4 linked regions of the Homo sapiens genome follow. The protein of the gene in region 1 interacts with the protein of each later gene in a pairwise test. Each region holds a gene or a part of one and is shown in the gene's direction. Other genes may lie near its edges. The genes, in order: PPP1R16A, APBB2, TPP2 and NUTF2.

Region 1 (7,021 bases):
GGGTGTCTGGCCAGTGTGTGCTTGCCCTGGCCTCTGCGGTCTACAGAGCTGGCCAGGCTTAGGAGCAGGCTGCTCGGAGGGAGAGTTACTGCCTGGAAAAGCTCTTTACTTGGCAGGCAGAAAGCCAGGTCAGGGCCACTGGCCTTATTGGCCGTGTCCTCAGGAAGCCTCTGAGGCTAGGCCTACAGGGGGGGACTATGTCTAGAGTAGGCTGAACCTGTAAAGTGGGGCTCCCAGATAAATTGGGGGCCCCTGAGCAGGAAGGACCTGACTGGCTTAATTTGACCTGGCCCAGGACAGTTCCCTTTCTGAAAGAAGGGGGCATTCTATGAAACACCTGGGTAGAAGTCCAGCAGTGAAGAGTTGGGTCAGTGTGTAGATGGCCATGAGGCCTGGCTGGGTGGAGAATAGGACTCCTGGCAGGCATCTTCTGCAGAGCACGGAGTGCCTTCTTTCTTTTCTTTCTTCCTTTCTTTCTTTCTCGGAGTCTCGCTCTGTCACCCAGGCTGGAGTGCAGTGGCGTGATCTTGGCTCATTGCAAGCTCTGCCTCCCTGGTTCACGCCATTCTCCTGCCTCAGCCTCCCGAGTAGCTGGGACTACAGGCACGTGCCACCACGCCCAGCTATTTTTTTTGTATTTTTAGCAGAGATGGGGTTTCACCCTGTTAGCTAGGATGGTCTCGATCTCCTGACCTCGTGATCCACCCGCCTTGGCCTCCCAAAGTGCTGGGATTACAGGCCTGAGCCACCGCGCCTGGCCAAGCACAGAGTGCCTTCTGAGGTGAGGCCTGTGGCCAGCCCAGCAACCACACTTAGTGTGTCGGGCAGGACTAGGGCCATAGCAGGTACATAGGCAGGGTTGTGCCCCAGCCGAAGCTGTCTGCCTGCCTGTCTGTCCCCATAGGCCTCAAGCCAGGCACCAGGTGGGGGCTTTTATTGCAGCCTAGGATGGCAGAGGCATTGTGGGAGCCCATCAAGGAAGAGGTCTAGAGACTGGGCAGTGAGAGGCTGGGGTATCAGTCAGGACAGGAGGAGGCGGGGCCTACCCTTGGAAGGCAGGAGAGGTGGAGGCCCAGGAGGCGGGGCCTGCCCTTGGAAGGCAGTAGCCTGCAAAGCCCTCAAGGCTGTTCCACGAGACCTCACCCTGCCCAGCCTTAGGGCAGCGCCTGGCCCTGGAGGAGCAGCCTAGCAGGGAACGCCTCGCTGGGGTGGGCGGCCCTTTCTGGAAAGGGTGGGTGGGAGGAGCCTGACATGCCTTTCCCCCGCCCCTCTCTGAACCTGGGGCAGAATGGGGGCAGAGTAGCTCCCCGTACCCCCAGGACTGTTGACCTGCAGTGCTCTCTGTGGACAAAGGGTGGGCCTCACACAGGGCAGGACCTGAGACAGCTGGAAGCCTGGTCTCACCTGAGGCCCAGGGCAGGGGCTCCCCCGGGCCACCCTGCCTCAAGCCGGCCTTGATATGCTTCCTTGTTCCCCACTTCTCAGGTGTGAGCAGCTGCTGGAAGAGGAGGTGCTCCTGAAGACACTGCGGCCGGCCCGCCTGTGCCCTTGGTGCCCTGGCTGCCTAGAGAGCCTCACCCCTGGGCCCTGGGGCCAGGACTCCAGGACTCTGACTACCTGCCCTCCCCCAGCCTCAGCGGCTGCACCTCCTCGTTAGTACTGATGCACTGACCTCGGCACACAGCTGGGAGGGGTTGGGGGCTGGGTCATGGCTGCTCCCAGGCCCCACCCAGGCTCCTGAGCCTAGAAGGTGAAAAGAGGACTCTCAGGGGCTCACAGGGGCTCTCACTGCTGGTTGGCCCTGCCCTCCCTTCCCCCTCAGCAGGGTGCCCGGAAGCTGGAACCTTGTTATCTGGGTAATTAGTTTCAGACCCTGCACTGAGGCCGGCCAGGTCTCGGGGCTGCCTCCCATAGGTTGTGCACCCTGACCCCGAGAGGGAGGCGAGGCGCTGCTTGTCGACAGCTAGAGGCTGGCCTGGGGAGCAGGTTTGGGGTGCCCTCCCACACTGCCCTCCCTGCCCCGGCCCATGCCCCCCAGGGCTGCCTGGGCCTGGTTATTGTGTGGGGCCTCCTGACCCAGCCAAGGGCACGAAGCTCTGGGAAGGGGATGCCCCCGAGGGTGCCAGTCCAGCTAGCTGCCCCACCCCTCAGGCCCAGCCTGGCCCCCAAGCTCCCCACTCTGGTGCCCCGAGCAGCCCTGTGGGCAAGCAGCCGCCGCCATGGCCGAGCACCTGGAGCTGCTGGCAGAGATGCCCATGGTGGGCAGGATGAGCACACAGGAGCGGCTGAAGCATGCCCAGAAGCGGCGCGCCCAGCAGGTGAAGATGTGGGCCCAGGCTGAGAAGGAGGCCCAGGGCAAGAAGGGTCCTGGGGAGCGTCCCCGGAAGGAGGCAGCCAGCCAAGGGCTCCTGAAGCAGGTCCTCTTCCCTCCCAGTGTTGTCCTTCTGGAGGCCGCTGCCCGAAATGACCTGGAAGAAGGTGAGTGTGGCTGAGCCCAGAGCAGCTCCCAGCAGACGGCCCACTCCCTGCTACCTGGGTGCCGTCTCATGCCAAGGCTGGGGGCTGGGCCTGTCCACAGCTCCTGGGCTCCAGCCCCCAGATCTTGCCTGGTCTCTTCAGGCTGGGTGGCCCAGGGTGCCCCCATCAGGCAAGCCCCAAGCAGTGGGCAGCCCTGAGGTGAGCCTGTGCGGGACAGCCGTCCTTCAGGCGGGGGCTGCATGCAGAGGGCTCCTGCTGTGAGGTGAGCTGAGGCCATGAGTGGACCCCCAGGAGCCTGCAGAAAAACCTAGTGCGGGGCCCCACGGGAGCAGGGGTGGCCGGTAGTCATTGCTGCTTCTTGTTAGGCTGCTCAGGAGAGCCCTGGTCTCCACCTCCGTGAAATAGGGTGGGACCAGCCACCTCTGTGGGTGAGAGAGCCAGGCCCTGGGCAGGCACAGAGCTATGCAGGTGGCCCCCTCTCAGTGCCTGCCCTAGGCTCTGCTTGTGACTCTCTTCTCCTCACCTGTGCCCCACGCTTGCAGCCCCAGCTGTGTGGGTTCCACTTCTGGTGCTCTGGAGTCTTGGGGGAAGAGGCACTGTGGTGGCCCTTGAGACTCCTTCCTGCCTCCCTCCGGAGCAGAGAGTAAAGAGGAGCCGGCAGTGTCTGGCCTGCATCTTTCCATGTGGACAGGAGCCCTCCCGGGAGGCCTGGAGGCAGAGGGAAGAGGCGGAGGGTGCCATGGTCCACAGGGAGCTGTGGGAAGGTGGGAGCCCTCCTGCTGCACCCCAGGCACCGTCAGGGAGAACCCTGGTGACCTGGGCGAGAGCTGGGCCCGAGTTGGGATCTTTGATGGGGAGGGGAGTGAGAGCAGGGATGTGCTCTGGTGGTGGGGAGCCTCAGGTCAGGTCCCAGAGGACCCAGGAGAGCTCATGAACACAGGGCTGGCAGGTTGTCAGGGAAGAGCCGAAGGAGCTGTGGTAGCCTCCAGGCAGGGAGCTCTTCCTGGGCTGGAGGGAGGTGTGGGATTGTTGGAGTGCTGCTCTCACACAGGAGCACGGCCTGTTCTGGGGGTCGGAGGGCTGGAGCACCACCATGAAGGGCCTGCAGGTGGGTGGAGGCAGAGGGCTTCTGGGAGTGTGACCGGCCTGGGCCAGACAGATGCCTGGTGCTTCTGCCCCCACCCCTGGGCTCTGGTGTGCCTCCTGCCATCGGCACCACTGTCTTCCTTGTCCTTCCCTGGGTCCTGGGCCGAAGCACAGTTGACAGGACCTGACCAGGGGCAGGACCCTGTCCTCACCTCGCCACCTTTTTGCAGTCCGCCAGTTCCTTGGGAGTGGGGTCAGCCCTGACTTGGCCAACGAGGACGGCCTGACGGCCCTGCACCAGGTCAGCCTGCACTGGGTGTGGGCAGGGTGGGGGCTGGCCCCCGTGCTCTGGTCGCTCACGTGGCACGGTTTGCAGTGCTGCATTGATGATTTCCGAGAGATGGTGCAGCAGCTCCTGGAGGCTGGGGCCAACATCAATGCCTGTGACAGTGAGTGCTGGACGCCTCTGCATGCTGCGGCCACCTGCGGCCACCTGCACCTGGTGGAGCTGCTCATCGCCAGGTAGGGCCTGTTGGGCGTCCTTGGCAGGGAGAGGCTTCCTCTCAGATGGCCGCTCAGGAGGCTCCTCTTGGGCAGTATCTGTGGCTCTCGGCCTCCTGTGTTCCCGCCTTCACCTTTGCTGACCCTGCCTGTGTCCTGGCATGGAGAGCAGGGCCTGGGGCTCCAGGGGAATGGGCATGTGCCCAGGGCAGCGCGGTCCCTGCCTCCCCAGCATTCGTCCTCCTGCCGAGAGGGCAGGCCTCGGGCCCCCCCCCAGAGTGTGCACAGAGAAATGTCTTGGTCAGTGAGGAGGGCAGAACTGCTAAGGAGGGAAGCAGAGTGAGGAGGCCAGGTGGCTTGGGAGGAGAGGGTACCTGAGCACAGGTAGGGCCTTTACCTTTAACACAGAGGGACGTAGAGCGGGGGGAACTCTGAGCAGGGAGGGTCCATGAGCCTCCTCCCTTCCCCTTTGCTCCAGGCATCTGTAGTGGGAGAGAGGTCAGGGCTGCGGTCATTCTCGAGTGCCCCTGTGAGGCCGGGTGGGGTGTGCATGGCGGTCGCGTCACACACAGGCGCTGCGGGGCAGGCGGGGATGTGGGGTGTCCACAGGTAGGCCTGCTCCTCCACTGCACACAGACACCCCCTTCTGTGTTCTGGGCTCCCCTTCACCGCCCTTCTTCCCTGGGGCCATGCTCCCCACAGCTCAGCAGCCCCTCAGCGTGGCTGCCTGGTCCTGCACCCCCGCCACCCTGTGCTCCCTGCTCCCCAGCAGGCAGGCCCATCCAATGCATGTTTATGGGGGCACCGCTGCCCCTGGAGGTGCCAGGAACCTGGATCCCTGGATGGATAGAGACTGCAGGAGGCCTGTCTGGCTTAATGACAGGATCTAGGACAGCCGATGGGCCCCAAGGCTGCCTCTCCCAGCAGCAGGTGGACAGGGTGCCTCCTGAGGGGCAGCCCTGGGCTGAGGGGCCCTGGCGGGGACTTCTCCAAGTGAGGAGCCTGGCAAGCGGGGAAGGGCCTTGTGCCCAGCACCCCGTCCGTCTTCCCTGCAGTGGCGCCAATCTCCTGGCGGTCAACACCGACGGGAACATGCCCTATGACCTGTGTGATGATGAGCAGACGCTGGACTGCCTGGAGACTGCCATGGCCGACCGTGGTAGGTGCGGCGGTGCGGCTGTGGGAGGGCTGCCGGTCGCGCTCCCTCTGAGCCTGCCGCCTCGCAGGCATCACCCAGGACAGCATCGAGGCCGCCCGGGCCGTGCCAGAACTGCGCATGCTGGACGACATCCGGAGCCGGCTGCAGGCCGGGGCAGACCTCCATGCCCCCCTGGACCACGGGGCCACGCTGGTGAGGGCTGGGGGGTGAGGGGCACACGGGGCTGGGGGCCTCGCTACTTGGAGGTGGGGGATGGGGCCGAATTCAGGCCGGGCGCTTGCCTGCAGCTGCACGTCGCAGCCGCCAACGGGTTCAGCGAGGCGGCTGCCCTGCTGCTGGAACACCGAGCCAGCCTGAGCGCTAAGGACCAAGACGGCTGGGAGCCGCTGCACGCCGCGGCCTACTGGGGCCAGGTGAGTGCGGGCGGGAGCAGGTGGGAGGGGGCTTCCAGCGCAGCAGTCTGCAGCTCCGGCCTGCCGTCCACAGGTGCCCCTGGTGGAGCTGCTCGTGGCGCACGGGGCCGACCTGAACGCAAAGTCCCTGATGGACGAGACGCCCCTTGGTGAGCTTGCGGGGCCCACCTCCACCTGGGGGAGAGGACAGGCGGGGAGGGCGCCCCTGACGCCTGCGCCCACTTCTCAGATGTGTGCGGGGACGAGGAGGTGCGGGCCAAGCTGCTGGAGCTGAAGCACAAGCACGACGCCCTCCTGCGCGCCCAGAGCCGCCAGCGCTCCTTGCTGCGCCGCCGCACCTCCAGCGCCGGCAGCCGCGGGTGAGCGCCGCCCCCAGCAGGCCCCGCCCCGGGCTTGGCCCCGCGGACGTCAGCCCCGGGCGGAGTGCCAGCCGAACTGGGGGCAGAGTCCGAGGGGGTGGGCGGGGTCCTCCGGGCACTCCCCTTCCCCTCACTCCCTCTCCTCTCTCCTCCCCAGGAAGGTGGTGAGGCGGGTGAGCCTAACCCAGCGCACCGACCTGTACCGCAAGCAGCACGCCCAGGAGGCCATCGTGTGGCAACAGCCGCCGCCCACCAGCCCGGAGCCGCCCGAGGACAACGATGACCGCCAGACAGGCGCAGAGCTCAGGCCGCCGCCCCCGGAGGTGAGCGCCCCGTCCCTGCTCCGCCCAGCGCAGGGGTGGGCCTGGCTCTGCCCTGGTTCTCTCTCCGCTTGGACCCCCTCCTGCCTGTGTCAGGAATGGTGCCCTGCAGGGGCCAGCTTTTGCCCCATCTCTCCTGTCTGTCCCTTCATGACCATACAGCCTGAACCCAAGGCCAGGGAGGGGGGAGGAGCCTCCTGATGGCTCTGGGACCTTCACTGCCCGCAGGAGGACAACCCCGAAGTGGTCAGGCCGCACAATGGCCGAGTAGGGGGCTCCCCAGTGCGGCATCTATACTCCAAGCGACTAGACCGGAGTGTCTCCTACCAGCTGAGCCCCCTGGACAGCACCACCCCCCACACCCTGGTCCACGACAAGGCCCACCACACCCTGGCTGACCTGAAGCGCCAGCGAGCTGCTGCCAAGCTGCAGCGACCCCCACCTGAGGGGCCCGAGAGCCCTGAGACAGCTGAGCCTGGCCTGCCTGGTGACACGGTGACCCCCCAGCCTGACTGTGGCTTCAGGGCAGGCGGGGACCCACCCCTGCTCAAGCTCACAGCCCCGGCGGTGGAGGCTCCCGTGGAGAGGAGGCCGTGCTGCCTGCTCATGTGAGGCTGTTGCTCAGCATGCAGGGGCCCTGTCGCGGGCACAGCCCAAGGCTGCCTCCCCACGGTGCGTGCCCTGGTGCTGCGGGTGCAGCACGGA
Region 2 (8,014 bases), on another chromosome or scaffold:
GTTGGGAGCAAAAGGGCTTGGTGATTAATTTAATGCGGGTGGTTGAGGAGGAAGGAAGAATTGAAGATGACTGAGATTTCTAGTTTAGAAACCTGAGTAATTGGGGAATGTCATTAACTGAAATAGGAGTGGAAGGAAGGAAATCATCCTATGTGAGGCCTACCAGAAGCTTTACATATGTTATTTAATCTTAAATAAACCTATAATGAAAAAATTAACATGCCCATTTTGCAGATAAGAAAAGTGAGATTCAGTGAGGTAAAGTAGCTTGCCCAAGGTCACACAACTACTAAGAGCTGGAATGTGAAATAAGGTCTTACTCCAGTGCCCCTATTCTTTCCATGATAGTAGGGGACTTTATGCTTTGTACCTCTTTGTACCTTTCTACACTCTAATAATAATTTTAGTTTGGAAAAATAGGACTGAAGCTCAATGGGAAGGTAGACCATGGAAACATGGTCCTCCCAGGAATAGTGCAGTATGAAGAGAGATTAAAGGATTGCCCTAATGACATTAAGGCCCAGAGCAGCACTGTTGAATACAATTTTTTGCAGTGATGCAAATGCTTTTTACTTACATTATCCAATACAGTAGTCATTAGGCCATATGCTACTGAGCACTTGAAATGTGGCTAGTATGAAAGAGGAACCGAAGAGTTAATTCTAACTGATTTTAAGTGATTTCAGATTAAATAAGCATATGTGGCTAGTGACTGCCATATTGGATGGTTTAGGACTAGAGAAACCAGTCAGGCGTAGAGGGTTCATCAGAGAAGAGGCCTTGCTGGTACCCCTGAAAAATCACTCGATATTTGATCATCTGCCTCATACCTCTGGGTAATATTGGTCCTATATTTGGGGACCATAATTTATTAGCTAGCAAAAGGTTTTTTCCTAGTGTGGACTACAAACTTATTTTACTATGTTTTATCTTTAGGAGAGTAAGTACAATACTCCCTCTCCTTTCTTATCTGAGAATCATTATAGTCATTTTCTCTGTATTTACATTTTTCCATACATAGTATTATTTAAGAGCTCAAGCTCCAGGAAAACTGCCTGGGTTCAAATCCCAGTTCTGCCAATGAATATTTTGTGCCTTGAGTTAGCTGCTTCACATTTGCAAGCCTCACTTTCCCTATCCATAAAATAGGGATAATAATAGTGCTTCATTTATAGGGTAGTTGTGAGGATTGAGTTAAATAACCTATGGAAAATGCTTAGCCAGTATCTGGCACATGCTAAATAGTCAGTAAGAGTTAGCTATTCTAAAACTAGTACCGTGTGACAGTGTGTATTTTGTACCTCTGCATTTTGACATTTACTCAACTCTATTTTTGCTTCAATAGAAGGTGTTCCTCCAGATCTCTGTCAGAACATTCCAAAAAGAAATTCATTCCTCAAGATAAGAAGGTAGACAGAGTTTTGAAGAATTAGATTTTATCTTATTGCAGGCATGAGTTTTGAGTTGTTTTTTATTTCACTTTGATTACTAAATTGTTAAAGTATTTAAAATCATTACAGAAGAAAATCATGACCGTGATATTTTGTTGTGATCATTAAAATTCCCTTGGTTTAAGCTCAAACCGTTGCACATATACCACACAATCAAATAATAATACTAGAAGTTCTTAATGTTGGCACAGAAGATTTCTTGATGTTTTGTAGTTATACTGTTTTTTTTGTTTTGTTTTGAGATGAGGTCTTGCTGTGTGGCTCAGGCTGGAGTGCAGTGGCTATTCACAGGCAAGATCCTACTGCAACTTTGAACGTCCAGCCTCATGTACCCTCTTGCCTCAGCCTCCCCAGTAGCTGGTACTACAGGCTTGGGCCACTGCACCTGACTCATACCTGTTTAATTGAAATATTTAATTCCTAGACTCTGGCTATTCAATGCCACTTAGAAGTGGCTGGATATTTGTTGATCATGGACTATTTAAAGACTAATGACGTCACAGGAACAAGTAATAGGATCCCTTTTGTTGTCACCTATTTTGTATTTTGTAATCTTTGGATTGTAAAACTGCATTGTAATATAGTATTGCACTCCCTACGGTGTTTGTGCAAAAAACATTTTTTTTTCCCCATTAGATTGGAATTTTGAGAAATCTGGCTTCAAGTGCCAGTTCTGCCTTTGGTTTGTCTAAATAAAGAAGTCATTTATTTCTCTGGGCCACAGAGAGGTAAATGTCATCTGTAAAGTCTAAGAGTTGATCTTGATTTGATTCTAGAATGGTCTTGAGGTATCCTTCCAAATAAAATTCCTTGGATCTGCCTCCTTCCCCCAACTCCCTAGGAGGACCTTTGGCCTTAAGGGACTTAAGAGAGGTCAGTTTTATCTACTGTTCACAGCGTTTACTTCCATGCTTTAAAAAACATGCTCTTGGAATATTCTTGGATATTTCATTTCCTTGGAAAACAATTAATGGGTGAGTCAGCATGAAGAAAAAAACCCACTCACAATAGATATAAAAATTGCATGAAGTGGTGAAACGAGAAATGATTTTCTTTGTAAACTGAAATGATGAGGTATGCAGAAACCAATTACGTATTTATAAAATGAGCGCGCGGTGGGAAAGCTTTATGTAGCAAAGCTAAAGTGCTGTTACATATTTAGCAAGACAGAGGGCATGGAGATTCCTCTCCATACTGCCTTAAAACTGCTGTTAAACGTTCCTTTCAGTGAGAGAGACAATGTGTTGGGAGGCGGACGAAGGAAGGAAGCAAGGGAAGGGTCAAAGCCTTCCCTCCGGCCCCGATCAGTCCCCTCTGTAAATTCATAATTAAGGGAATTTCCTCCTGCAGCTGCGCAACGCTTGGTGGCCGTTTCGACGTCACTGTCAGGGCATTTCAGGGATTTTGTGTGCCCAGGCAGTGACTTCCCGACTTCTCCGGCGTATCCCCGACGGGGCGCAGAACACCGCCCGTGGCGAAGTCGGGCCGGGGGAGTTTGGGAACCCGTCCCCGGGAGCTCAGCGGCCAGAGGAGGGCGCGGAAGTGTTTCCTGGGTGAGCGCGGCAGCGGGACCCGTTTCCGGAAGGCTGATTGCATCAGGTGTGGAGCAGGGCGCCTCCTCGGCCCAACCTGGCGGCCTCTGCGCCTGCGCGCGCCGCCCCGCCCCCCCCCCCCCCCCCCCCCCCGCCGCCGCGGACTCCACCGCGGGTTTTCCTCTCCGTCGGGAAGAGACCGACCTGGGAGGGGCAGGCTCCGCTCACCTACCCCGGACCCCCGAGAGAGAGCGGGGTGGCCAGGCCGGGTTCCGGGGATCTGAGGGGAGCTGTGAGGTCCGGGAATAGAGTGCCTTGGAAAGAGGACCCGTCTGCAAGGTTGGAGGCTGGTCGATCTCCGCTCCTGACGGGAATGGTGGTCTTGGGCTGGTTTCCTTGCCTCTTTGGCCTTGAAGATCACAGACTAAGAACCACAGGCTCTCCAGTTCAGAGAGCCTGTATTTTCCCCAAGAGGTCTACTGTGGCCCTCGACTGTCCTTGGTCCACGGACGTGTTAGGTGGATCTTGGGGTGCAGAGACTCAGTCCCAAGAGTAAACACTTTTCATGAATTTATAGGGATTTCTCTGTGACAGTATTGTTTTTATGTTGTAGGAAGGAGGGACATGATTGCTGGCCTCCAGCTCGGTCTGAGGGAGATAATTGTTAATTGGAGAGGTTATTGGAGTGCAAAAGTCAGAAACCACCTTCCACAAGGCAGCCCCCCTCCCATCCCTTCGTAACAACCTCACTGAGTCTGCATGAGGGTCCCTCTATACACTCTATTCGCACCTTGTGCATTTCCCTCCCAGCACTCTACCTGTTTGAAATAACCGTTTTGAGTGATTATTTGATAGGTGTCTGTCACCCGGCCGGACTATAAATTCCATGAAAGCAGGGGCCTGGGCTTTTAAATTCACCACTATCCTCAGGCCTAGTACAAGACCTCGTGGATCCTTAATAAACTCATGTAGGAAAGAATAAAGTAATGCCCACCCCACTGCATAGAGTCCTCATAGGAAGAATCACGTGAGTTTTTAATTCGAGATCCTTGGTAGGACTGTGTGTGTGTGTGTGTATGGGTAGGGTTCTCTAAAGTGTATAGTCCTCACACCAGCAGCATCAGCATCCCATGGGAACTTGTTAGATATACAGATGCTTGGGCCCCACCACATATCTACCCATTCAGAGACACAGATTGGGACTCAGGGATTTGTACTTCAGCAAACCCTCCAGGCGATTCTGATCCAGGCTCCAGTTTGACAACCGCTGCCCTGGTGAAGAGCAATCCTAAGGATACTTTGGGGATGTCATTCACAGCGTCTGGGGCAGAGCACGGTTTACCGTTTACTGAGACTCGACTCTTATCAGGGCTTTGTTTGCACGCTTACAATTAGAGTTATAGATAATATTATTGGCAATGGAAAGGAAAACCTCCTTTTCCTCTCCGGCAGTTGTATCTCTCCCCTGATATTATCTTGTGATTTCCGGATCAAAGAAGAGTGTGTGTGCGGCATATGCCTGGGGGTGGGGATAGGAGGTAGAAGGAAGGAGAAGGTGTCGCCTACAACTTGCAGTTAGCCTGGGTGGGTGTGGGCAGCTCTCCTGTGGGGACATTTTCCTATTGCAAGGGAATGCTGGCGTGTGGGAGAAAAGCCAGGGCTAAGGTAACCCAACTGCCTTTTGGTGCAGACAGACACCAGCCACACGGAGGGGATACCCGGGCTGCACTGCACGTCCTGCCTTTGGGTCTTACTGGGGGACCCATTGCCTCCCTGCGTGTTCCCAGGCGATTGGGGAGGGTGCCTCCCGCAGGCCCTGCCGCCTCCACCTGCAGGGGTCGCCCTGGGAGCGCGGCCCGCCTCCTTCTGCCCGGCCCCCACCCCCCGGCCCCGCCTTTCTCCCATTCGGCCCCCTCCCCGCCGGGTCCCTCCAGCCTTCCCTCGCGCAGCCGCTGCCAAAGCCTGGAGAAGTGGAATCTCGTCAGCGCCGCTCCCTGCGCGGGACTCGCGGAACGGCACTGAGCATGCTCAGTTGCCGGAGCCCGTTCTGGTCTCAAGTAGGAAGCTAGTGCGCTGTAACCGCATCTGATCTGGGCGCTCCGGGAAGGGCGAGACTGGAGCAGAGCCGCTGGGCGCCGGAGCCGAGGCGAGCGCCGCGCGCACCACTGGTGAGCCCAGCTTTCTTCCTTGCCTTTGCCCCGGATTCCGGGGCAGCACGAGAGTGCTGGGGAAACACCCGGGTAGCGGCAGCAGCGTGCGGCGAGCGGCTGCGGGTTCCCCCGGCGGCTTCTCCTCTGCTCCCGGCCCCGGGGCTCCGCGGCCACTGCTGCCCGCTCAGCCGCAGCCACACCTGCAGCAGCTGCCGCGGCATCTGCAGCGGGGCGCCTGCTGCGGAGTCCCGTGCGCCCTGCGCCCGCGCCGCAGGGCCAGTGGCACGGCGACTGCGGGCTCACTCTCCTTGACTTCCATCCCTCCCGCTTCCCGGCGCCCTCTTTCCCTCAGCAGCCCCGGCTTGGCAGGGCCTGGGGCGGGGGAGACCGGGTTGGAGGCGGTGCGCCCGGGTGGGGACTGCAGAGGGGAAAAGTGAGGGTGGGCGCCTGCGGGAAGAGCGCACACCCCCTTGTCCTGGCACCGGCCTCCGCTGTGCCGCTCGGCTGTCTCTCCTGGGCGGCAGCGCGCTCCTGCCGGGGAGTTGGAGCCGGGGTTGGCTTCTCCACGAGGGGTTCAGAGGCCAGCCCATGAGACATGAAAGGGGGGAAAAGTTCCTTTTCCCCCTCGGTGGCAGAGAGAGCGTTTAACTAGAAAATGGCTGTGCATAGGGGACCGACTCCAGGAAACTGGCCACTGGGACCCGAAAGCCCCTGCGCTGCCCACCGGGCGGAATGGAGGGTGGTACGCTAGAAATGACATTTGTGCGGCGAGAACAGAGCTGGACGGAGGGAAGGATGCTGAGACCCATAGAAACAATGAAAGGTGGTCTTCACGTCGGTGAAGTGGTGTAGACTACGGGTTCGGGGCAAACAGCCGAGGGAGCATGGGACTAGAATTCAAAAAAATAAATTAATTTGGATAAATCATATGTGGAGTTGTCACCGACCGTTCTGTAGTCAAGTTCTGCGCGGTTTTAGAGCCACGACTGTCACAGACGTTTTTGGATGGATTGAGTGGTTGAGGAGGGTTAAAATTGAGAGGAGAATAAGGTCAGTGTCGGAAGCTCCAACTGGGCTCTCGGAGGGGACAGTTTGTTTAAGTCCCTCAGTCACTGGCTTTACATTGTGTCTAATTACTTACGTGAAATACCCAAAGGATTATCATAAAATGATGCCATCGGTGGTGTTTGAATTCCAAGGAATGAGGAAACTTTGTGAGGTTGGCATGGGTTTATCATTTGTTTTAATATTTCACTGATTTAAAAAAAACAAACACAATGGCAGTTTGATCTGTTGTTTCTGGAGTTTACTCTCTTAAATCTTGCTTTTTTTTTTTTTCTTGTCATGGTTTCAGATTTAAAATCTTGTCCCCAAATGGCCATAATAATGCAGAGTATTAGAATTTGTGTGGCTGGCCTTTTAGGAACAGATGGAATCCTTGAAAGGGGATTTCTTCATGAACTTAGGTAGCAACCTTCTCGTTTTCAACTTGTAGCTTGTAAGCAATATTTGTTCAACAGTTGTTTATCATAACTTGCAACATCCTAGAAATGGCATCGTTCGTGAAGGATGGTATTTGTGGCGAGAATGGGGAAACCTCCAGGCTGGGGAAATGCCGAGAGAACACAGGTGGCAGTAGAGTACAGTGGGTTGATCATAGGGCGGAAGGTGGTGGGGTACAAGTACAAGATTTCAATTGCTGTTCTTTCGTTGTCCATGTACTGTATGACCCCGAAGTCACCGACAGTCTTCGTAAACTGGATGTAACCACGTCTCTAGATATTTGCTGAGAGCCTTTGAGAGACGACTCTAAAGTTGAGATCCTTTCCACAGAAGGTTTTTAGGTCCTATGCTTTTATTCCCTCTTCTAATGGATACTTTTAACTGAATAAATTCACCTTCAAGGAGCCAATGTGAACTGGCTTTCTGAAATTTTTATAAAGTGGTAATTGAAAAGCTGGATGGTGAGGTGGGAGGATTGCTTGAGCCTAGGAGTTTGAGGCTGTAGTGAGCTATGATCACGCCACTGCACTCCAGCCTGGGCAACAGAGTGAGATCCTGTTTCTGAAAAAAAGAAAGCTTGATGAGCTAAAGTGCAAAATACTGGTGTTTACACTTAGCTGGAGTAATGTGAATACTGACTCCAAAATTACTTGGGAAAAAACTATTGCATATATTGTAAGAATCCACATGTACAAACATAAAATATTTTTAAACTGGTACTTTTTGTCATGTTTCAACCTTTTGATGACTGTTTTCTTTTCCTGCCACCAGAAAAACAGCATATGAACATTGAATTCTTTTATTTTTCTGTTACCACAGGAATGAATACTGAAAGCCTTGTCATAATATTAGAATAATGATGTGTGTGGACTATCCTGAGTACTGGATATCTAAATTTATCTTTTAAGAAAAATGGAAGGGAGAGCATCAGGAAGAATAGCTAATAGATACTGGGCTTAATACCTAGGTGATGGGTTGATCTGTGCATCAAACCACCATAGCACATGTTTACCTGTGTAACAAATCTGCACATCCTGCACACGTACCTGGAACTTAAAAGTTGAAGGAAAAAATAAGAAAAATGGTATGTCGTGTCTCTGTACCTTTTTCAATTTCATTTTAAAAATAGACAATACCTGGCCGGGTACGGTGGCTAACACCTATAATCACAGCACTTTGGGAAGCTGAGGCGGGCAGATCACTTGAGGTCAGGAGTTTGAGACCAGCCTGGCCAAGAGGTAAAACCCCCGTCTCTAAAAAAATACAAAAATTAGCCGGGTGTGGTGGCTCCCGCCTGTAATCCCAGCTACTGGGAAAGCTGAGGCAGGAGAATCACTTGAACCTGGGAGGTGGAGGTTACAGTGAGCCAAGATCGCGC
Region 3 (7,021 bases), on another chromosome or scaffold:
CAATATCATCAATGTTTATGTGTTTAATGAGCTCTGGAGAGGACAAGAATGATACAGCACTCATCTTATGAATTGGTGGCCTCCATATTCTTCCCATAAAACAGTAATTCCCAACCTGGCTGTACCCTAGAATCATCTGAGAGTTGTTTAATAAATAACAATCTCTGGGACAGTCCTCAGAGATTCTGATTTAATTGGTCTGTCATGAGACCTCAGCATCTTTTTTGCTTGAGTTCCCCTGGGGTTTATAACATACAGTTGGGTTGAACACCACAGCCAACAGCCATCTTGTTTAACCCAGCAGTGTTTGAAAGAAAATGTCATTCACATGCTTTTAGATATCTGCTTTGTACGTTTATATTACGCCACAAAGCCCACACCAGTCTCTCTGCCCACCACATAATGAGAACACAGTGATTTTTGTGGAATGAAGCCTTCATGTAATGCAAGCAGTTTGAGTCAGACTGTTTAGTTCAGGTCTTCAAAAAAGATTTTAAAATGAGTGTTAGAACACAAGACATTAACACCAGAGGGTCTACAGGTGATCGATCATACTGGTGGGCGGCTAAGGTTTCAGATAGTGAGTGCTACACTACTTGTTTTTGTTTCTTAATTTTAGGTCTGAAAGCTAATAACATTGACTACACAGTTCATTCAGTCAGAAGAGCTCTAGAAAACACTGCAGTGAAGGCTGACAATATAGAAGTATTTGCTCAAGGACATGGTATTATTCAGGTATTGTTGCCTATATGAAAAATGGGTTGTAAAGCATCATTGAGATAATATCTTAGATATTATTGGGTAATATTTTGTTTTATAACAGTGATTCAGTATATCTGAATTATGGATTATATGGCCATAGAACTACAAGCAAAAAGGATACACAAACAAATTTTGTAGTTAAGACAAATCTGTTGCACTAAGATCAAGAAATGTAATAGATGGAGGCCATGTAGAGGTTAGAAATTCAAAGAAATCGAGGTCAAAAACTGGCCAATCATAACGGCATAGGGATTAGTTCCTAAATTTGGTCACTTGAGAATAACAGTGTGAATAGAGTGGAGTGGAAGATGTGACTGGTGTTGTTTCTAAAAATGTAGAATTGTCCTCTTAGTTGGGGTACTAGGTAGTTTTGAGAGGTGAATATAGACACTAACTTTTTGTTTTACAACTGAAATCAAATTGATTGGTAATTTGCAACAAAATATTTTTTGACCCAACCATTTATATCTTACCATGTATATTATTTTCACTAGGTTGATAAAGCCTATGACTACCTCGTTCAGAATACATCATTTGCTAATAAATTAGGTTTTACTGTTACTGTTGGAAATAACCGTGGCATCTACCTCCGAGATCCTGTTCAGGTGGCTGCACCTTCAGATCATGGCGTTGGCATTGAACCTGTATTTCCGGAGAACACAGGTCAGTAATAGGCTGGCAGTAAGCTGACGTATTCACATTTGCTGTTTGAATGAGTGGTATCATAATAAAGAATTGCTGTTTGGGCCAGTGTTGTGAAGAGAATACATGAATTGACAGTATGATTATTTTAAATCTTAGTCATAAGAGAAAATATTAGAGCAATTTGGGGTCCTTGTACAATGGCAATTTAGTTAGCATCTTAAACTACCAGGGAAAACAGTAGAATGAGCCTCAGTGACCCACAGCTTTATTAAATTGTGGATAATAAAATATCAAATTTCTTTTCCACTTTACCTACTTAGGTATAAGACAGAGCTTTCTGTTGAAGAATGAAAAGTAGAAGCAGTCTAGGAGAACTGCAGCTCGATTAGGTGTGAACAAAAATAATCATCGCTATTATCTGGCTGTCTTCATTTCAGTTGAATACTATGACCTGTGTGCAGTAATGAAAACATTCACTTAAACTCTTTATTTTAAGGTCATACCAGTGCTTGGTGAAAGTATAAATGAATCATGAGTAATCTAAATTGTAAGGAAGATTATTTGACTGTTTTATTTAAGCTGTGTTTTGGATGCATTTTACAGCCAACCAAACCAAGTCGCTAAATTTTTTTGGAAAGATGTAACATTTTTAAATGGAAAAAAGGAAAAAAATACTCATCTTTAATTTTTGGTCTTTTTCGTGCCAGAAAACTCTGAAAAAATATCCCTTCAGCTTCATTTAGCTCTGACTTCAAATTCATCTTGGGTTCAGTGTCCCAGCCATTTGGAACTCATGAATCAATGTAGACACATAAACATACGTGTGGATCCCAGGGGCTTAAGAGAAGGATTGCATTATACAGAGGTATTGATGTATCTTCATTTTTACTTTCTTCACTCTTTAAAATGTTTAAAAGGTTAAAAAAAAATCCAAAGTATATTTGCAATATATTGCTTTCTTGCTAAGAAATAACTAGACCTATCCATCTGCCAGGTTATTCAGTTCTTCTGGTGTGTCTATATTCATTTAAGCAGTGAGTTTCTAAAGAATCATATTTTGTCCTTGTATGAATAAGTAAAAGGAAAGAAGAGGTACAGCAGAACCTTTCAATTAGATCTCCCTCTAACTGGTGTTTTCTTTTGTCAGCTAAACAAAGCTGCAGTTGCTTGTTGTTGTTGTTGTTGTTGTTTTAAGAGACAGAGTCTTGCTCTGTTGCCCAGGCTGGAGTACAGTGGTGTGATCGTGGTTCGCTGCAGCCTTGAACTCTTGGGCTCAAGTGATATTCACACCTTAGCCTCCTGAGTAGCTAGGACTAGTGGCGTGCACCACCAAGCCTGGCTAAATTTTTTTATTTTTGTAGAGACAGGATCTCTCTATGTTGCCCAGTCTTGTCTTGAACTCTTGGCCTCAAGTGATCCTCCTGCCTTGGCCTCCCAGGGCTTTGGGATTACAGGTGTGAACCACCACACCCAGCCAGTTATACCTTTTAGTACTCAGATGAAGAAAGCATCTGTTAAACAAATAGTTGTAAACCAGGCATAGAATAGTATCACAACAGTATCTCCACATCTAAAGTTGTCTGTAGTACTAGTTTGAGCTAATTTTTCAGTTGGGAGTAATTAAAATGCACTTATTTTGTACCTGACGTCTCATTTTCCCATTTCAACTGGTCAAATGTTGCTATACATTTGTTTGGGCTGTTTGCTATTAATTATGTGACCTAGTGTCAGGAAATTGGTGTCAACCTCTGGTTAAGACCTTGATTAAAAGTAGATTGATTTATTCTGTCAGTAGTTTAGACCTTCCCCCGCTCTTTTAAACATTTGTTTATGGATATTGACACTTACCGATTCTTTTTTCAAGGTATGTGGCTATGATATAGCATCCCCTAACGCAGGTCCGCTCTTCAGAGTTCCGATCACTGCAGTTATAGCAGCAAAGTAAGTAACAGGTTACTCACAGCTTACTGGTACATCTAAGATTTTAATGACTATTCATGGAGTCTTGTGGACTTTTAATGATCACTAATACAGAACCAGGTAATGGGGATTTTGTCTTAGTTCTGCTCCCAGCTAGCATTTTTAGGTGTCATGTAGTCAGCCATACTGACTCTTGTGTGCTCTGAGAGTAACTGATGGCACCTGGCATCTGCCCTACCTCTGCATCAAAACTATTTCCACCACAGTCACTCTGAGCTCTGCATTGCCCAGTTCAGAGGATAACTCAGGCTTCGTCTGACCCGATCCCACTGTAGTATTTGACAATATTACTTCACTCCCCTCCATTCCTGCCCTTTTTGTCTCTGTCGTTTTTGGGATTTACTCTCTTCTCTTAATGCTTCCACTTTTCTAGTTATCTACTGTAGAAGCAGAAGTTAAGAAACTCTTAACTTCCCATCTTATTCCTCTGGAACCAAGGAAAAATCAGCAGATTATATTACTTCCTGCTTAAAGTATATCAGTGGCACCTCCAAAGGTCAAGTTCAAGCTCCTTAAAATAGCAAACAATGCTCCCTCACAATTATAGCCCTAGCCAGTGTTTCCTGTCATTCCGTACACCAAATTACACATTTTGGCCAACTCACTGATTTTGGCACTTGAGGATTCTCAGGATTTGTGCATGTGCACAGCTGATAACTTGGTTTCAATTTCCTGTCTCTTCAGTTAATGACCAGGTGCATTCCTGGTCATCCCTGGGTGAAGGGAGTCCCTTCTTTCTGCTTCGTGGCACATTTTACGTGCCCCTGGACAGACTTTAGCCAATATATTGTAATTTTTTATTTAACTTACACTCTTTCACTGTGAGCCCACCGAAGGCACAGAGACTACTGTTATACAGGATGTATAAAATAAATTATCTAGTGGATGAAGGTGAGATTGGGATTGTGAGAGTACTGGAAACCAAGTGGAAATTCTAAACTAACAGTTCTGTTACTCTGGTAAATATTAAGTATGCAATAGATCTCAGCCCATGAGAAACACAGGATGAAATTGAGGAGAATAAATTTAAAAAGTGGTATACATGTGGAAAAATTGTGCAACAGTTAAATTCTCAGCCGTATATTCCCTCGAAGTCCAGTAGTAATTTAGACCAGGTAATGTGTAAGACCTTCAGGAGTCAGCTGCCACGCCATCTCCTTCAGGAAGCTTCCCAGGCTCCGTAACTCTTCTTGTCTATCTGGAGCATCTTATGTTAAATGTCTCTGATGATGATTCTCTCCATGCTAGATTGTCTAGGTTAAAGAATCATATTTTCTTCTTTGTTACGTTTCTAGCTCCTAATAACAGGGCCTCATGTAGTAGGCACTCATTTAACCGTTTGTCCTACTGACAAGAATTTGTCTCTAGCATAAAATTTGTTTCCGTGGTGGGTAGTTATGCATTTGAACTTTATTTCATTGATTTCTTACAAAAGTGCTTTGAAAGTAGTTTGCCTTTCTTTACTGTTTTACATCATGGGAGTGTTTTGAAGCTACAGGAGGAGCTTAATTTAACACAAGTCTCATAGCTATAATACCAGTGACATAAAACTTTATCATTGATTTTAATATCTAGGACTCACTGTAGTTTGGAATCTGGTAATTGGAAAATTCTGTGAATGTTGTAGAATGCCTTTAACAAAAAAGAGAATGCTTTTTTAATAGTGTGTGTGAATGTATCTTACAAATCATAAAATAGGCAAAAAGTAGAATCATCTATACTCTGCTATTCAGAGGTTATCTCTGCTAACCTACTGCAAAAATTGAACAATATCGTACCTACTGTTTTGTAACCAGCTTCTAAGTCCCTGTGTTTATTTCCAATGAATTGTTATTTTGCGTTTATCCAATGAAATCTAGAGTATCTGTGGTCTTATAATAAATATATACATTTAATTACTTTTATTAATTTTCAGAGTAAATGAATCATCACATTATGATCTAGCCTTTACAGATGTACACTTTAAACCTGGTCAAATTCGAAGGCATTTTATTGAGGTTCCTGAGGGTGCAACATGGGCTGGTAGGTAAAATTAAAATCTGTGTGACCGCTTATCTCTGTTTACGTTCTAATGACTATAGCTGTATGAGGTTCGTTTATCTGTAGCATGTATTTCCCTGGTACTAATATATGTATTTGGGTACCTTAGACTTTCTGTAAAGTTCAAAACGTTTTTAAGATCTAGTACAATTTTGCATTGGCCCATACAGGAAATTAAGCCATCTTAAGATGTTTTTAATATTTAAGGTTTGAGCTTAGTTTAGAATAATGCCTTACCTGGTAATAATTTTTTTTTTTTTTTTTTTTTTTTTTTTGAGACAGAGTCTCACTCTGTCGCCAGGCTGGAGTGCAGTGGCATGATCTCGGCTCACTGCAACCTCCACCTCCCCAGTTCAAACGATTCTCCTTCCTCAGCCTCCCGAGTAGCTTGGACTAGCAGGCGTGTGCTACCACGCCAGGCTATTTTTTGTATTTTTAGTAGACACGAGGTTTCACCATGTTGGCTAGGATGGTCTCGATCTCTTGACCTCGTGATACACTCGCCTCGTCCTCCCAAAGTGCTGGGATTACAGGCATGAGCAACTGTGCCCGGCCTAATTTTTAAAATACTACAAATCAGTTTAAACAATGCAGCTGTTGCTTAAACCTCAAACTGTTAAACTCTCAGAATTTTAGAAATAGAGCTTTAATCTTTGAAGCTCTGTTTATAGAAGATTTTCACTTCAGTGTCTCTGAAATTTTGAGAGTAAATGATTGCCTAACACAAAGCTCTTGAATTAACATGTTATAGTCCTGTGAGAGTGCTCATGTCATTCTTTTTTACAAGAGCTGTGGGTGTACCATATTTTCCTTCACAAGTTGTGTGTCCTAAATTTACAATTTAGCAGTCAGTATAGAAGGGTATGTCAGTTGTCAGAGCTCACTCCCATTGATAGAAGGAAGCAAATACGGGCAGTCAAGAAAGTGTCACCCAATTTAAATTAGTAGCCAGCATTGTTGATACTTCTTGGATTTGGCCCCTCTGCTAAGCACTTTACAGAGATTATCTTGTCTAGTCCCGTCAGAACCCTATAAGGTAGATAGGTGTCATTAGTAAAAATGGCTTGTATTTTACTTAGGAGTGTGTTTTTTGTACTTGTATGAAAGTACAGATATATTTACATCTGAGACTTTATTGAAAATGAAATATTGAAATCACACATGTATGACTTGGTTTGGGAATAACTGGTTGTATTTGGTTCCCCATACCATTTTCTGGTCATCTATCTGTATGCTGTCCATCTGTTTGTCACCTGGTATCACAGGAAATACCAGACTTTTCTTGTTTTTTGTAATTAGGTAAAGGCAAAATAATAGCAAAAGCTGAGAGCTAAAGCAGTGAATTGAACAGCACCCAATATAGCCTGTTAATTTGCACACTGGTTTATAATGGAGCTATTGCAGCAGTGAGAGGCTTCTGAGGATAATCGGGTTGTACTACACTCATTCATTAAGCATATTTTTCTGTACCATCTGTGCCAGGCCCTTTTCAGTGGGCTAAGGTGGTGAGCTACTTAGACAAGGACCCTGCTTCCAGAGGCCTTGAGAGCATCTAGTCCAAGATATTGCAGTTAAGAGAACTGGATTAGAGGGA
Region 4 (7,021 bases), on another chromosome or scaffold:
CTCTAGTTGGGAGGGGGCCTCCTCTCAGAGACCCGAGAGAGACAGCTCCTTAGGGTAAAAGCAATGCTGGGATGAGGGGATATGAAGGGATGACACGTTTCCCTTCACAGCCTCCATCCCCTCTTCCCACAACCCTCAGCTTTCCCTCTGATCCTTGAACTCATGTCCCCAGCTCTGAAGTGGGTAGGAGTCACTCCCATCAATGAAGAAATATCCTAGAAAGGGCCAGGTCAGGTAATCACCTGGCCTCGGGGAAGTAAACTGCCCCCATGAGACTAAGGGATCACTTGCTGTTTTTGGCAGAGGAGGGCCCTTGGCTGGGTACAGTGGCTCACGCCTGTAACCCCAGAACTTTGGGAGGCCAAGGCGGGTGGATCACTTGCAGTCTGGAGTTCGAGACCAGCCTGGCCAACATGGTGAAATCCCATTTCTACTAAAAATACAAATTAGCTGGGTGTGTTGGCAGGCGCCTGTAATCCCAGCTACTCTGGAGGCTGAGGCAAGAGAATCACTTGAGCCCAGGGAGCGGAGGTTGCAGTGAGCCAAGATCACGCCATTGCACTCCAGCCTGGGCAACAAGAGTGAAACTCTGTCTCAAAAAAAAAAAAAAAAAAAAAAAAGAAGAGGGGCCTTGAGAATCTCCCCACATCCTCACTGGGTCTTCCATCTGTCAGCGTAGCCCTGGGACAGTGTTGGGGGCCTGAGGGCTGTAGTACAAAATAGTACACACACACAGGTATCAGTTGTTCTTGGCTGTAAAGTGGGAAGAATAGCAATAACTCTGTCCTTGCAGGTTGTTGAGAGGATTACATGGAAAGATACTGGAGGAGTGCTTAACTCCTCCCATAAGGCCCCTCCCCTTACTGGGCTTTCAAGGGCCTGCTCTGACCTTTCTTTGTTGTAGATCTACCCTTAGCACCCCTCCTGTGTGCTCCACGACCCTATCATCTATGTGTCTCATCAACCAAGAACTCAAAGGAGAGGCTGGGTCTGATCTACCTCTGGGCTCCTAGCACTGGTCTGGCTTGGGAGGGGTCTCCTGCCAGTTCCCCAGGGCCTGTCCGTGTTCTCTGAGAGAACAGATCTCAGCAAAGGACTCCAGGAAGGCCAGTGAGGGGTGGGGGTCAGTGGCTGGTCACCTACTCTCATGGTACCAATGCTTCCCTCCTGGTCTCATTGGTCTTGCAGGTCTCCGTGAGGCCGGGTGACGCTCCAGAATGGGAGACAAGCCAATTTGGGAGCAGATTGGATCCAGCTTCATTCAACATTACTACCAGTTATTTGATAATGATAGAACCCAACTAGGCGCAATTTACGTAAGTTTCCAGCTCTAGGGCCAGAATGGACCCTAGGGGATCAATTTGGATGTTGGGCCAGTGTGTCCAGTTCACAAGTTCTGGCAGCCCTATCTGGACTGGCTACACCTCTGTATCTGAACTTTTGTCCACGGGACAGGGGTCTGACGCTTGGCCCAAGTAATTACCTGGTCTATACTTTTCCTTTTGTCAACTTCCACAAGAGTGAGAATCCTGCTGTTCTGGGCTTGCCATTCCATGTGGCCAGCATTTGTCATGGCACATGGTTTTGGATTGGGCAGCAACAGGCAGAGGTTAGGGCTCATGGTGCCCTCTGGAGGCAGCAGCCATGAGCATCCTCAGTGCAAAGCTGAGCTCTCTTGGAGGCCTGGGGTCCAGCTTCCTTTTGGATCCAAGGCTCCTGAATGCTCATGGAAAACAAATGAGGTTAGCCCAGGGAGGCTGATAGGTCATTTCACAAACCCTTCTATGCAGGCATTGCTGGCTGCTCTTTTTTTTTTTTTTTTTTGAGATGGAGTCTTGCTCTTTCGCCAGGCTGGAGTGCAATGGCTCGATCTCAGCTCACTGCAAGCTCCGCCTCCTGGGTTCAAGTGATTCTCCTGCCTCAGCCTCCCGAGTAGCTGGGATTACAGGCGCCTGCCCCCATGGCCAGTTAATTTTTTGTATTTTTAGTAGAGATGGGGTTTCACCATGTTGGCCAGGCTGGTCTCGAACTCCTGACCTCGTGATCCTCCCACCTTGGCCTTCCAACGTGCTGGGATTACAGGCGTGAGCCACTGCGCCCGGCATTTGCTGCTCTTTTAACGATGTTCATATACACCAAGAACTAATTGTACTTGACTCTGCCTGAGAGTCAGTCACAAAAATGTGATTGATCAGGCAGGTGAGCCCAGGATGGGGGTGTTAGGAGTAATCCAGGCACAGTCTCAGAGCCTGATTGGGCTGACTCTCCACAGTCTTCTGTGTCTGTCTCCAGAAAGTCAGTGTCCATTCAGAAATTTTGGAAAAAATAATGAAATTTTATTAGTGGAAGACCAATTCCAGCACAGATATTTGATTGTCATTATCATAGTAGAGTTTTTTTTTTTTTTTTTTGAGACAGAGTCTCACTCTGTCAACAAAGCTGGTGTGCAGTGGGGTGATCTCAGCTCACTGCAACTTCTGCCTCCTGGGTTCAAGCGATTCTTGTGCCTAGCCTCAGGAGTAGCTGAGGCTACAGGCATGCACCACCAAGCCTAATTTTTTTTTTTTCTTGAGATGCAGTCTCACTCTGTCGCCCAGGCTGGAGTGCAGTGGTGCAATCTTGGCTCACTGCAATGTCCATCTCCTGGGTTCAAGCTATTCTCCCATCTCAGCCTCCCAAGTATCTGGGACTACAGGCACGTGTTGCCATGCCCGGCTAATTTTTGTATTTTTTAGTAGAGATGGGATTTCACCATGTTGGCCAGGCTGTTCTTGAACTCCTGACCTCAGGTGATTTGCCTGCCTCAGCTTCCCAAAGTGCTGGGATTACAGGCATAAGCCACCGCGCCCGGCTACACCTAATTTTTGTATTTTTAGTGGAGGTGACATTTCACCATGTTGGCTAGGCTAGTCTCCAACTCCTGACCTCAGGTGATCTGCCTGCCTTGGCTTCCCAAAGTGCTGGGATTACAGGTGTGAGTTACCATGCCCAGCATAGAGTTTTTGAAACCTTGAAGTGATCTGACCTGAGATCCTGGCACTTGTGCCTCATTATCACTCTCCCTTTTTTTTTTTTTGAGATGGAGTCTCACTCTGTCACCTAGACTGGAGTGCATTCATGCGATTTTGGCTCACTGCATCCTCTGCCTCCCAGGTTCAAGCAATTCTCATGCCTCAGCCTCCCAAGTAGCTGGGGTTACAGGCACGCACCACCATGCCCAGCTAATTTTTGTATTTTTAGGAGAGACGGGGTTTCACCATGTTGGCCAGGCTGGTCTGGAACACCTGACTTCAAGTGATCTACCCACCTTGGCCTCCCAAAGTGCTGGGATTACAGGTGTGAGCCACTGCACCTGGCCTCATTATCTCTTAAAGCAGGCCTGAGCCAGAGAAGAGAGTTAGCAAGGTCCTAAAAGAACAATTTATATTTATTATTTCATAATACTCAGCACATTACCCCTTTGAAGGTTAGGAAACTAAGACTCAGAGAAATAACTTACTTAATGTCACAGCTAGTAAGCAGCAGAAGCCCTTTTGAGTTCTGCCCTTGAAGGCTGTGGAAGGGAAGATTTGAGGTGGAACTAAGCTAAGTGGGTTACATTTGAGATTTTGCTTCTTGGTGGTAGGGAGGGTCCCAGACTAGGCCTTGGAAGGCCCTGTCAGCCTCTATCTCTCCCTGACCCCATGGGTATCCAGAAGGCTAGCTAGAAAGTCCACAGTGGAACTTAGCCTCGGCCCTGGAGGGTGATGAATGTGGAATTTTTCCAAGTTATTTCTGATGACTTTTTTTTTGAGATGGAGTCTTGCTCTGTCACCCAGGCTGGAGTGCAGTGGTGCGATTTCGGCTCGCTACAAACCGCCGCCTCCTGGGTTCAAGCAATTCTCCTGCCTCAGCCTCCTAAGTAGCTGGGATTACAGGCGTGCGCCACCATGCCTGGATAATTTTTGCATTTTTAGTAGAGTTGGGGTTTCACCATGTTGGTCAGGCTGGTCTCGATGTCCTGACCTCGTGATCTTCCCGCCTTGGCTTCCCAAAGTTCTGGGATTACAGGCGTGAGCCACCGTGCCTGGCCACATTTCTGATGACCTTTTGGGACTGACACTGACTGACCACACAGCAGGATGGCTGAGCTCAGGCCAATATAGCCCTCCTGGGCCTATGCATATCAGAGACCATATGACTTCTTAAATACAAATGGGAAGTATATTTTATTAAATAGTCTTTCAAAGCCTGGGCCCAGGGTCAATGGGGTAGAAGATGTTGATAGTGTAATGTTTGGGGGCTATACTCAGTCTCCTTCTTTAGACAGGGAAACTGAAGTGTGGCCACACTTCTCCAAGCAAGGCCCTTTTCAGAGTCTTTCCAGGGCCTTAGAGATACTTGTACTCTGAGGCCCCAACCCTGGGGTTTCCTGTGCCTTTTTCAGATTGACGCGTCATGCCTTACGTGGGAAGGACAACAGTTCCAGGGGAAAGCTGCCATTGTGGAGAAGTTGTCTGTAAGTAGGGAAGAAAGCCAGGGTGCAGGTGGCTCCTTTCCCACCCCTTCTGGCCTTGGTTCTCCCACCTCCCACTCTCTCTCTTGTAGAGCCTTCCGTTCCAGAAAATTCAGCACAGCATCACCGCGCAGGACCATCAGCCCACTCCAGATAGCTGCATCATCAGCATGGTTGTGGGCCAGCTTAAGGTAATGGTACTGCCACAGTGGTAGGGAGGGGTGGGCAGGCAGAGGAGAGTCTTGTACCCCTGCTTTCCCTGTGGATGTGACCTGCTTATCTAGGGACACCCAGACAAAGTGACTGTCTAGAGCTGCGTAGTTCAGTATGCTAGCCATTAGCCACATGTAGGTGGCAATTTTTAAGTTATATTAATTAAGATTAAATAAAATGTACTTCTTCGGTTGTACTAGCCATATAGAACATTTTTGTGACTGTAGAAAGTCCTATTGGCAGACACTGGTCTAGAGCCTTTATCTGGAAAAGGGAGAAGTATAGGAGTAGGATGGGACTGGGGTGCCAAGCCACTAGGCTCCCACTCTGCCCTAAGGTCAAGGTGGACAGGCTAGCTGGGTGCGGAGAGGCAGTCCACTCCTGCAGCCCTTGCTACCACTCCTCAGGCTGGCTGCTGGCTCCTTGCCTGCTGAGCAAAGCAGATTCCTGGAACTCCTATTTCTTTTTTTTTTTTTTTTTGAGACGGAGTCTCACTCTTGTTGCTTAGGCTGGAATGCAGTGGCACAATCTCAGCTCACTACACTTCTGCCTTCCGAGTTCAAGCAATTCTCCAGCCTCAGCTTCCCAAGTAGCTGGGATTACAGCTGCCCGCCACCACACCCAGATAATTTTTTGTATTTTTAGTAGAGACAGGGTTTCACTATGTTGGCCAGGCTGGTCTTGAACTCCTGACCTCAGGTGATCCACCTGCCTCGGCCTCCCAAAGTGCTGGGATTATAGGCGTGAGCCACCTATTTCTCTTTGCATTTTCCTTCCTCCTTCTCAAGACCTATTATTCTCAGAGACTTCCTGTGGTCCCTCAGACCCCCCAAGAACTCTCCAAGGACCTGTTGTGCTTCAGCATATTAAAGTCAGATTCTGGGCTGGGCGCGGTGGCTCACGCCTGTAATCCCAGCACTTTGGGAGGCCGAGGCAGGCAGATTACCTGAGGTCAGGAGTTTGAGACCAGCCTGACCAACATGGAGAAACCCTGTCTCTACTAAAAATACAAAATTAGCCAGGCATGGTGGCACATGCCTGTAATCCCATCTACACGGGAGGCTGCGGCAGGAGAATCGCTTGAACCTGGGAGGCAGAGGTTGCGGTGAGCTGAGATTGCACCATTGCACTCTAGCCTGGGCAACAAGAGTGAAACTCTGTCTCTAAATAAATAAATAAAGCCAGATTCTGTTTACAAAAACACCCTTCTTCCCAAAAATAGCAGGACAAATTGGCTGCCCCTCGGCCTGGGCTTGTGTCTTACAATAACATGGTCACATGCTCTCTTTCTCTAGGCTAGCCGGGACAGGGCTTCCTGAGTCCAGAGTGGGTGTGTAGGTGGTCCTGTGGGCCTCTGCAGTGGACGCAGAGGCACCTGCTTTCTGGCCTGGACTTTCCTGTCAGTTTCTCCTGCCTGTTCAGGATGTCCTGCTCAGTGCCTGTGCCTGAAGAGGCACAGAATTCAGGAGGTCTCTGTAGGGAGCTCATTGTTCACTTTCTCAGGCAAAGGTAGTAAACACTGCTGCTTCCCACCGGCTTCAGGTTCTTCCTGGTGATTCTGTCCAATTTGGAGCTCCCAAACAACTGATTTGCCTCCTTGATGACGATAATTCCCAGAAAGCAGGTGATGTTAGAGACAGTGCTGGTTAGCTAGGCTCCTATTTCAACTAGGTCTCATCCTAGTTTTCTGCAGTTTGGCTGCAGGTTTCTTGCCCTTTTTTTTCATCTCAAATACTGTTTATTACATGACAGGAAACATCATTGGATAGTGAACCTATGTTTTCAAGATTGTTTGCAGTTTTTTTGATACTCTATAAGTTACTTGGTAAATACTATGGGATTCGTTTCAAAATTGTGATCACTTGTGTCTGGAGATATGTGCTTGGAGGCAGGTACATCCTCTGCTCTTTTGCTGTAGCTAAGGGTGAATTATTGTGCAGTTTAAGCACACATAGCACACATAGGCGTGGCTGATTGTTGGCCTACATGTGCCCAGGGCATTGTTTCATACATTACATCAATTCACATTCACAAGTACCCCTTGGCTACACTGGGATTTGAGTTCAGGACAGTAGGGCCTGATCCTAAAGTCAACATTTTTTTGCCCTCTTCTCCTACCACTGAATTCCCTTCCTGTTTCTTGATCCCCTTACTGAATCCTCTTTTCTCTCCTCATAGGCGGATGAAGACCCCATCATGGGGTTCCACCAGATGTTCCTATTAAAGAACATCAACGATGCTTGGGTTTGCACCAATGACATGTTCAGGCTCGCCCTGCACAACTTTGGCTGACCTCCTCTCAGCTAGGCACTC

The links.
Region 2: the proteins of PPP1R16A (region 1) and APBB2 interact in binary tests that used the Homo sapiens proteins (3 or more experiments, as listed by UniProt).
Region 3: the proteins of PPP1R16A (region 1) and TPP2 interact in binary tests that used the Homo sapiens proteins (3 or more experiments, as listed by UniProt).
Region 4: the proteins of PPP1R16A (region 1) and NUTF2 interact in binary tests that used the Homo sapiens proteins (3 or more experiments, as listed by UniProt).

Annotation. Positions count from the first base shown.
Region 1 is NC_000008.11:144,494,976-144,501,996, forward strand, and holds part of PPP1R16A (protein phosphatase 1 regulatory subunit 16A), read left to right. Parts: exon of another isoform or gene 1-1,485; 5' UTR 1,486-2,219; coding exon 2,220-2,478; intron 2,479-3,001; exon of another isoform or gene 3,002-3,020; coding exon of another isoform or gene 3,021-3,242; exon of another isoform or gene 3,243-3,794; coding exon 3,795-3,865; exon of another isoform or gene 3,866-3,940; coding exon 3,941-4,086; exon of another isoform or gene 4,087-4,547; intron 4,548-5,120; coding exon 5,121-5,224; intron 5,225-5,291; coding exon 5,292-5,416; intron 5,417-5,511; coding exon 5,512-5,637; intron 5,638-5,710; coding exon 5,711-5,786; intron 5,787-5,866; coding exon 5,867-5,996; intron 5,997-6,153; coding exon 6,154-6,319; intron 6,320-6,544; coding exon 6,545-6,928; 3' UTR 6,929-7,021. UniProt on the Homo sapiens protein: Inhibits protein phosphatase 1 activity toward phosphorylase, myosin light chain and myosin substrates.
Region 2 is NC_000004.12:41,211,542-41,219,555, reverse strand, and holds the start of APBB2 (amyloid beta precursor protein binding family B member 2), read left to right. Parts: upstream 1-5,013; 5' UTR 5,014-5,151; intron 5,152-8,014. UniProt on the Homo sapiens protein: Plays a role in the maintenance of lens transparency, and may also play a role in muscle cell strength. Involved in hippocampal neurite branching and neuromuscular junction formation, as a result plays a role in spatial memory functioning.
Region 3 is NC_000013.11:102,634,968-102,641,988, forward strand, and holds part of TPP2 (tripeptidyl-peptidase 2), read left to right. Parts: intron 1-619; coding exon 620-735; intron 736-1,256; coding exon 1,257-1,425; intron 1,426-2,114; coding exon 2,115-2,272; intron 2,273-3,271; coding exon 3,272-3,348; intron 3,349-5,302; coding exon 5,303-5,409; intron 5,410-7,021. UniProt on the Homo sapiens protein: Cytosolic tripeptidyl-peptidase that releases N-terminal tripeptides from polypeptides and is a component of the proteolytic cascade acting downstream of the 26S proteasome in the ubiquitin-proteasome pathway.
Region 4 is NC_000016.10:67,863,914-67,870,934, forward strand, and holds part of NUTF2 (nuclear transport factor 2), read left to right. Parts: intron 1-1,188; 5' UTR 1,189-1,217; coding exon 1,218-1,316; intron 1,317-4,426; coding exon 4,427-4,498; intron 4,499-4,587; coding exon 4,588-4,686; intron 4,687-6,886; coding exon 6,887-7,000; 3' UTR 7,001-7,021. UniProt on the Homo sapiens protein: Mediates the import of GDP-bound RAN from the cytoplasm into the nucleus which is essential for the function of RAN in cargo receptor-mediated nucleocytoplasmic transport.